Homo sapiens: one gene and its partner. The protein of the gene in region 2 interacts with the protein of the main gene of each other region in a biochemical or structural test. Each region holds a gene or a part of one and is shown on either strand. Other genes may lie near its edges.

Region 1 (4,603 bases), on a different chromosome or scaffold from region 2:
TACTTCATATGGCTTCTACAAGTTGATGGTAATCTGAATTTATACTAGTTAAGAAACTAAGTTCATTCCTCCCCTTCATTCCCCATTCCCACTCCCGCCCCACCCCCAACACCAGTAGTTTATAATAGACTATTTCGGTGCAAGTGTGAAGTAAATCATATGGTAGAATTCAACTGCAAATAAGAATGGTCAACTCAACTCTTGGTTCATGAATCTGAACCCTCTTATGTTCCTTTTGCAACTGGAAAGAATATTTCTATTTTGTATGTTCCTGAAGTTCCAGCTGTCTTTTATTAAGGTAAAGGGTCACATTTCACTGCCCAGTTACTTTTAAAAGCATTACAAAGCATACCCTTCCCACTTGGAAACTGGACAGTGATTCTCTCTGTGCTCTCATGGAGCTGGACATCCTCAGACAGTTTTGCGAAATGATCACTAGCAAGGCCTCTTGGCCTCTTCTCATGTATTTATGGGTATCAAATAACTCATGCAACTATGTTGGCCTTTCAGTGACCTTAAATATTGCTTATGAGAACAGAAACCTTAATAGCACAGAGATGCACAGGTGGTTCCCTCATATTCCAAATAAACAAGCTTCTTTAGGTACCTTCTCATTATTTGTTTCTGTAGCTTTATTTTGCTGAACAGAACAGCAGTTCTCACCAGAAAACATCCTTTCCTCTTTTCCGTTATTAGAGGGTCAAACATTAGAACAAATTTTTGTAAAATGTATATGAAAAAGAAATAGAACTGTGGACTTTGTATGTTTCTCTCTCAAACTATCACCTAGGTCTCTATATGAGGTGATAGTTTGAAAGATACAAATTCCCTAATTCTATTTCTTTTTCAAATACATTTTATAATTAAAATATTTACTCTTTCTAGTTGTCCTAGCTAGAAAAAATATTGTCATTTAAAATTGGTTTTCCCAAGCTTACTTCAGCCACATGTTAATGACCTACCTTCCCTGCCTCCTTTTCAAGAAAAAAAAGTGAAAAAAAATTTTGATGTCTTTGGTAGAGTAAACCAAGGTCTCCAAAATTAGTATTCCAGTGTTAGTTGAAAATGCCTAGGTTTGATATTATTCTTTTTAAAGTCTCCTTAAGGTTGGGAAATCTGATATATCCTAATTCAACTCTTCTATTTTGCAATTGAAGAAACTGGGCCGGCGTAGTAAAATTATATCGGGCCTCAAGTTCTCCAGCCCCTAGCATCAATGCTCCTCCACCTATACCAAGATGGCTAGATTGTGCAGTAATGCAAAAACGAGACAAAAGAGCTCCAATGGCATCTTAATGTATGCAAATCTGACAAATAGCTATGAATCATCCCCAAGGTAATACTTTAAAGCAGGCTTTGATATATTTGATGTTATGATGAAATGAGGAACTCAGATATTCCAACACTTCCAAATGTCACATCCAAAAGTTTGAAATTAATATTAGCATTCTATAAAGGCACTTCAGTGAATATAAGAATTATGACTAAGCCAAGAACTTCCAGTTTTTATTTTTTAAACATCATTTAACAAGAAAAAACATTCAACCAAATTAAAAAGAACTAGGTTGGATTAATTTACAATAAAATAATCAACTTAAAATATCGGCCCTTCCATTTAGGGCCAAGGAGGCCAATAGTTCCTGTTTAAACAGCAGAATTGCACAATTATTTTTACCTATATTTGATGGCACAAAAAAATAAAAGTCTTACAACTTCCACGGACATCCTCCCCTCCCTCCAGAGCAGAGTTCATACAATTCCATCTTAGGTCAGTACTCAGGCTTTTAAAAATCATCTTACGTTTTGAAATATAATACAACTACTCTGGTAACAAGAATACTTTTAAAACAATTCTTATAGAAAACAAATACCTTAGATAATTGTGTGGCACATTAGACTGCTCAAAGAAACAGCAAAGATGAAAAATAATGTACAAGAATTATAGTCCCTTGTTTATAGAAACCATCCAAATAAAATATTTTCCCTAATTTTCCTTGCTTCTTATAATTTATTAGCAGAGATGAATTACAAGAAGCAGAACGCACCATTTTTTGGTTCTTGGTTGTAGCTGCCAACTTAGGAGTTCATGACTATAAATATAAAGCAAATATGATTATGCTCACAAGCTCTGGAATGGTAAAAAAACCCCACATATCTCTAAAGTGTTTCTCTATCCTTGCTTTCAAGTCATGACAAAAAAATTCACAGCAGTTTAAAGGATGGTGAAAGACTAAACATGGGCCCACTAAAATAGAGATTAATTTTACCTATTACACTCCTATAGTAAAAATTGTAATAAGTATGATATTGTATTAAGTAACATTCTATAGTAAGCCGTTGGAGCAAATACAGCATTTAACAGGTTCATTTACAGATCCGGCATGGTAGCCTTCAGACAGAACATCTTATTTTCACTCTTGAACATGTAACCTTTAAAAAAACCAAAAGGAATATGTAATTTATGACAGCTGGCCAGGCACTTAATTTGGGGAAAGAGAAGGATTTTGAGGTAAACTAGAATTCTTTTCAGCAATCACAAACATAGCCTAAAAACCACGTTTTATACCACACTGAAGTTATTCAGCTTTTAACTATAAGTTTGTCACTCCTTTGTGCCAAAATTCACACCTAGGTGTAACTTTTTTTTTGGAGACAAGTCTCTCTTGTCACCCAGGCTGGAGTGCAGTGGCACGATCTCTGCTCACTGTAACCTCCACCTCCTGGGTTGAAGTGATTCTCCTGCCTCAGCCTCTCAAGTAGCTGGGACTACAGGCACGGGCCACCATGCCCGGCTAATTGTAACTTCTTAAGGTATTCAAAGAACATACTCAAGTCTGAATTTTGGCCCCATTTAGAAACTTCTGTGCTTAGAACATACTTGGAAAACTCTAAGTACATACATACAAGGGCTATTGGCACAAGAGCCCAAGATGAGTAACTATCTTTCTCCCTAATTTGACATCAAATTTAATAGATTTTTAAGAAAAAGAATCACTGCCAGTCACAGACATTTAAAAAAGAAATGACTGAGGTGATAAGCCTCAGGAAAATTACAGAGTAGCACTGCTCCAGAAGGAGCAGAAACAGAAAAGCAGAATTTCCATTTACAAATGATGACAGTACTGTGAAAGCTCCCAGAATTAGCAGTAAGAAGCACAACTCTGCAGGTTCATTATACTCTGGACACAGTATATGTTTCTTCTCTTCTGAATTTCAAGGTAATATGACATTTGCTTAATAAATGAAAATTCATAATATAGAAGATGGAGGACCTCAGTAAGTATTTAGATATTAAAGACAGGAACAAAGTGGCCATTTTGGAATTAGTCTTTTATCAAAAGTTATCCAAGTCTATTTTTCATGAGAATTACCAGGGTATTATCTGCAAATTAAAATGCCAAGCCTCCAAATCCTCATAGGTATCAATTAATTATATTTTCCATTCCTGTCTCAACAATTTCAACTTCCTGTTTTGAGCAAACTCATCAGCTTAGATTTATCAACATCTTGTTTTAAACCCTTCAAAGAACATTATGAATAAAGAGAATTTAAAACGTTTCTCAGCTGAGACATCCTCATTCTCAAATGAGAATATTGGCTTAATTTAGAGTTTCTACATGGCTAAAAGAAAAAAAAATGTTTAAATACGTGATACTGAGTTTTCCAGTCATGGTAAAGGGTTTGTGCTAACTGACCTCTTCTTTCCTTGCAGGGCTAACTGCAGCTACCTAGCAAAATTACTAGCTGGAGTTACTGGTGCAATGAGCAAATGCAGAAGAATTTCTTTCTCTGTGATGCTAACTGGATTGTTCAAGTTTTGAAACTGTGACCCTGGTCCATTAGCACCATGCTTTACTCAACTGAAATAATCAAGCCCCTATTGCTGTGGGGGAAGCTGTAGAGGGTGGGGTGAGAAGGGGATTGAAGGCAATTATATACATCATTAAGATACCATGATATACAGTGAAAATGTAATTTGTTAATATACTATATTTGAGGTTTGAAAATCACTGATCACAGCTATTAAATAACAATGCACCAAAGTTTTACAATATTTGAACATCTGCAAATGTAGAGCTTTCTGGTATGACACAAATTTGAATACAAATGGAAGTTCATTGAATATTAGGTTTATCAGTAAGCTAGGGGAAACAAATTACATACATTGTATAGGTAGTAACCTATGAAAAAAGTGGAGATTAGGTAAAAATTATTAAGTGAAATTATTCATGTGCTTTCAGTTTCATCTTTCTCCTGGGAAAGCCCCAAAACAGGCCTCTGGAAAACCAATTTCATACATGTACAAAATGGCATCTGCTCTCAAATAGATATAGCTTTCCTTCAATGGTAGATAAGTCACAGACGTATCTCAGACATTCATTTCATGCATAAGGATTTTTGAGACATCTATTCCACTGAAATATTATAAAGGAAGTCTACAAACCACTTCTAGGAAAAAGGCACTTCACTGTGAAAGTTGGATTTAATTACGTCAAAGTTGTGAAGACTAGGATAGACTCAAAATTCAGTATTCATTTTTGTATTTATGAATCTAGAGCAGATGCCAGTTTAGAGAATAGAGCCGATAACATTATAAACAAAC
Region 2 (3,500 bases):
TTGAAGCCAACCCGCTCCTCATAGGTCAGGGTGGGCACCTCCTCGGAAGCACAGGCTCGCTCGGGCACTTCAGCCCCACCAACCTGAAGAGGGGAGACACATGGGCATGAGACCAGTTGGCAAGGGCCAGGTAGGTGCCCAGAGACCCCCACCATCCTGGCCTTGAGAGTGGGTTCTGAAAGAAGGAAGAGCTGCATGGCCGTGGGCTTCCCAGGAAAGGTCTGCAGCACAGCAGCCCCATGCAGCCATGATGGGGTGTGAAGCGTTAACTACCTGCAGGCTGTGGGGTGAAGCTGGGGCTGGAGGCCGGGGCAGGTGTCCAGGGCTGAGGCCCAGGTGTCCTGGCCTTGCTCCTGGTAGCTGTCTGGAACCCCAGGGGGCCCCAAAGCTGTGAGGAGCTGGGTGGGAGCAGGGTAGGAGCTACTGGTGTCCAGCTGGCAGGTCAGGACACCCCTGGGCACCCTCACCTCGCTGTCGGAGCTGGGCTGGACGACCTCCCAGGTCTGGAAGTCCACGTCATAGCAGTGCAGCTCGTTGGGCAGCGTGTTGTCGGCCGCACCCCCAAACACATAGAGGTGGCGGTCAAAGGCCACCATGGTATGCCCGTAGCGCCGCTGCGGGGGTGGTGGGGAGCCCCGGAGCAGGTGTTCAGTTGGGATGCGTGTCCACCTGGGGGTACACAACAGTGAATCAATGCTGGGACAGGGGCTCCTGCTCACCCTCGGGGCCTCCCCACAGCAGGCCTTCACTGGGAGGTCCCCCTGCATCCCTTACGGTGACTAGCCCAGGGTCCAGAGGGAGGGCCTAGACACCTGCGCTGAGCACCTCTCACCCCATCCAGCACGGGCACCAGCCCTGCCTGGCTCCATGTGGCCCACCGCAGGGTCCTGCCAGAGCTCCCCCCTCTCCCCATGGAGCAGGCAGCAGTGATGGGCAGGAGGGTGGCATCTGACCCGCCCAGGCAGTCCTGCTCTCTGGGGAGTAAAGTTGTGCAGAGACCATTGCAGGTCACTGTGTTCACGCTGCCCAGTCAGAGCATCCCCACAGCTGAGTCCCCATCCTGGGAGCTGCCTGTACCCCACATCCTGATGCTGCCCCAGCACCTTCCACCTCCCAGGCTTCCCAGTACCTCCCAGCAAGTCCTCTCTTTTGCTAAGTTAGCTGAAGACTTCAGAACAGATCCTGGCCTGGCAGGGCTATGCCATCTGGCTCCATGCTGAGCCCCAGGCCCTTGACAATTTCCCTCATCCTGGGGCTCCCTGCCCTTCCTCCCACGCACCCGTGGCCTCCAGGGAAGCTCCCAAGTCCCTTCCCAAACCCCCTGTACCTGCAGCTCACACTCCTTGTGCCCTCTCCTGCAGCCCCATTGCAGGGATCAAGGGCTGGCCAGCAGCCAGGGGCAGCATGGGCCAGACCTCTCAGGACCTGCAGGCCCCTCTGGTCTTCTGCCATTATTTGAGATCTATGCAGGCCACGTCTGTTACTGGTGGCACTGACCAAGCTATTCACGAGGAAGGGGACGTCCTTCACGTTCAGAGGGAGGCCTAGCCAGGGGCCTCCTCGCCAGGCCTTATCTTGCTAAGCTGTAGCCATATCCTGGGGACCTGCCAGGGGCACCGCACATCCCTGCTCCGGGCTGTAACCTCCTGCTGTTTGCAGAGCTCACAAGGATGGTTACCATGGCCACCAGGTGCAAGAGGCGTTCTTCATATTCAGAAGGATTCGAGGGAACTGACCGTCCTCCCTCCACCCCACTGGCCAGAGTACTCACGTCTTGTCCTTGAATTCAAACTGGAAGAGGTTGTTGGTTATTTTGGCTCCGCTTTGCCCAGAGAATACAAACATCTTGTCCCGGCACACAGCCACGGGGAAGTTGCAGCAAGATGGGGGGATCTCGCCACTCTGGGCCACCTGCAGGGGGAGAGGACAGCTCAGCCCCGGCCTCACAGGGCCCGCTCACATTTCACCACACTCGAGACTGCTGAGATGGGACTGCTTTTATTCTTGAAACTTCCCCAGATGAGGATTCACAGATTCCTTTGTCTTGGAACAGCTCATAGCCCTGTCTCATCCACTTCACGGGGCCCAGTTGTGAACAGCTGGGGTTAAAATCGTCAGGGTTAAATCATCAGGGGCTAAACTCATGTTTTTCATGCCCAGAAGACTGAAAAACAATTTTTTTTAATGAATAAATAAATAAATTCCATGTTTCTAAAGGGGAAAGCAAGCCCAGGGGGAGCTCCAGGGAGCAGGACACTGGATAGCAGACGGCCCTCACTGCACTGAAATAAAGGGTGCGTTAAAGCAAAACCACATCCTCACACACGTGGCACTCTGCCCATCCAAAGCACCAAACCTCGAATCACTGTGCAGCCACAGTGAGGAACTGGTCGTGAAGGCCCGCAGGTCACCAGGGAGGAGAGCGAGGCTCAGGTCGAGGCTGGGCTTTGCAAGGGGAAGAAAGCAGCCTCGACCCCCAGCCTGGCTCCCCCTGCCTCCCACCTCCCTCCACCTGCACCCTGTCTCCCCATGCCCCTCACCTCCTCCACCTGCGCCCTGGCTCCCCGTGCCCCTCACCTCCTCTACCTGCGCCCTGGCTCCCCACGCCCCTCACCTCCTCCCAGCAGGTGAGCTCTCGGTCCTGGAGGCCAATTGTCCACATGTCATTCAACCTGTATTAGGACAGACCAGTGAGGACCCCTTGGGTCTGGTGGTCAGGGTGGGCCTAGTCCTGGCTGGAAGGGATGGCTGCAGGGAGGAGCCCCACCCCCACACAGGGTAGGAGACTTGTGCGGCCATGAGGCGGGAACTTCTGTGTGGGGTGGCAGCCACTGCCTCAAATCCCTGCTGTGCCAGGCCCCCTGCCCGGCCCAGACAGAACAAGTACTCTCATGCATGACATCAGGGCAGTGTGGCAGTGCCAGCTCCTCACTCAGTGTCCCTCCTGGGTGGGGAGAGGACACAGATATCCCAGATGCCACCATCACTGCATCGTTAGGAGTTTCTATGATGCTGAAGTTTTGGGAAACCAGCATATGCTACTTTTGTGATCAGAAAAAGAGAGCAAAGCCAACTTTCTAAAATAAGGAGGAAAAGGCCTTTGGCCTGGGCAAGAACCAGGGCTGGGCCTGAGCCTGGGCACCGCCCACCCGCCCACCAACTCAGCTCCGCAGGGCAACTCCTGGCTGAGGATCCTCATCCAAGCTACTCTGGTAGCCACGGGGCTCCACCCAGTGGCCCTCACCTCCATCTGTCCATCCTCCTCTTTCCCCATCCCCCTCCCAAGAAACCCCCAGACAGAGTGGCACTCAAAATCCACCAGGCACTCAAAATCCTCCCAGCCTAAGCCCTCAAATGCCAGGACGGCCTGCTCCGGGTCTCAGTGCTGTCGGAGGTGGGGTGCACAGGCCGGACCACCACCCACCTGGCGTTGCCGTCATAGCCAGCAAAGATCCACAGCTTGTCACTGTACACCGTGGCCCCATGGGCTGACCTAGCGA

What was found. The genes of interacting proteins can lie anywhere in the genome.
Region 1: of the proteins of LZTR1 (region 2) and NRAS, one has a biochemical effect on the other in vitro, tested with the Homo sapiens proteins (one study listed by BioGRID).

What each region holds. Positions count from the first base shown.
Region 1 is NC_000001.11:114,702,991-114,707,593, forward strand, and holds the end of NRAS (GTPase NRas), read right to left. Parts: 3' UTR 1,479-4,603; downstream 1-1,478. UniProt on the Homo sapiens protein: Ras proteins bind GDP/GTP and possess intrinsic GTPase activity.
Region 2 is NC_000022.11:20,988,797-20,992,296, reverse strand, and holds part of LZTR1 (leucine-zipper-like transcriptional regulator 1), read right to left. Parts: coding exon 3,425-3,500; intron 2,673-3,424; coding exon 2,615-2,672; intron 1,912-2,614; coding exon 1,772-1,911; intron 670-1,771; coding exon 468-669; intron 84-467; coding exon 1-83. UniProt on the Homo sapiens protein: Substrate-specific adapter of a BCR (BTB-CUL3-RBX1) E3 ubiquitin-protein ligase complex that mediates ubiquitination of Ras (K-Ras/KRAS, N-Ras/NRAS and H-Ras/HRAS).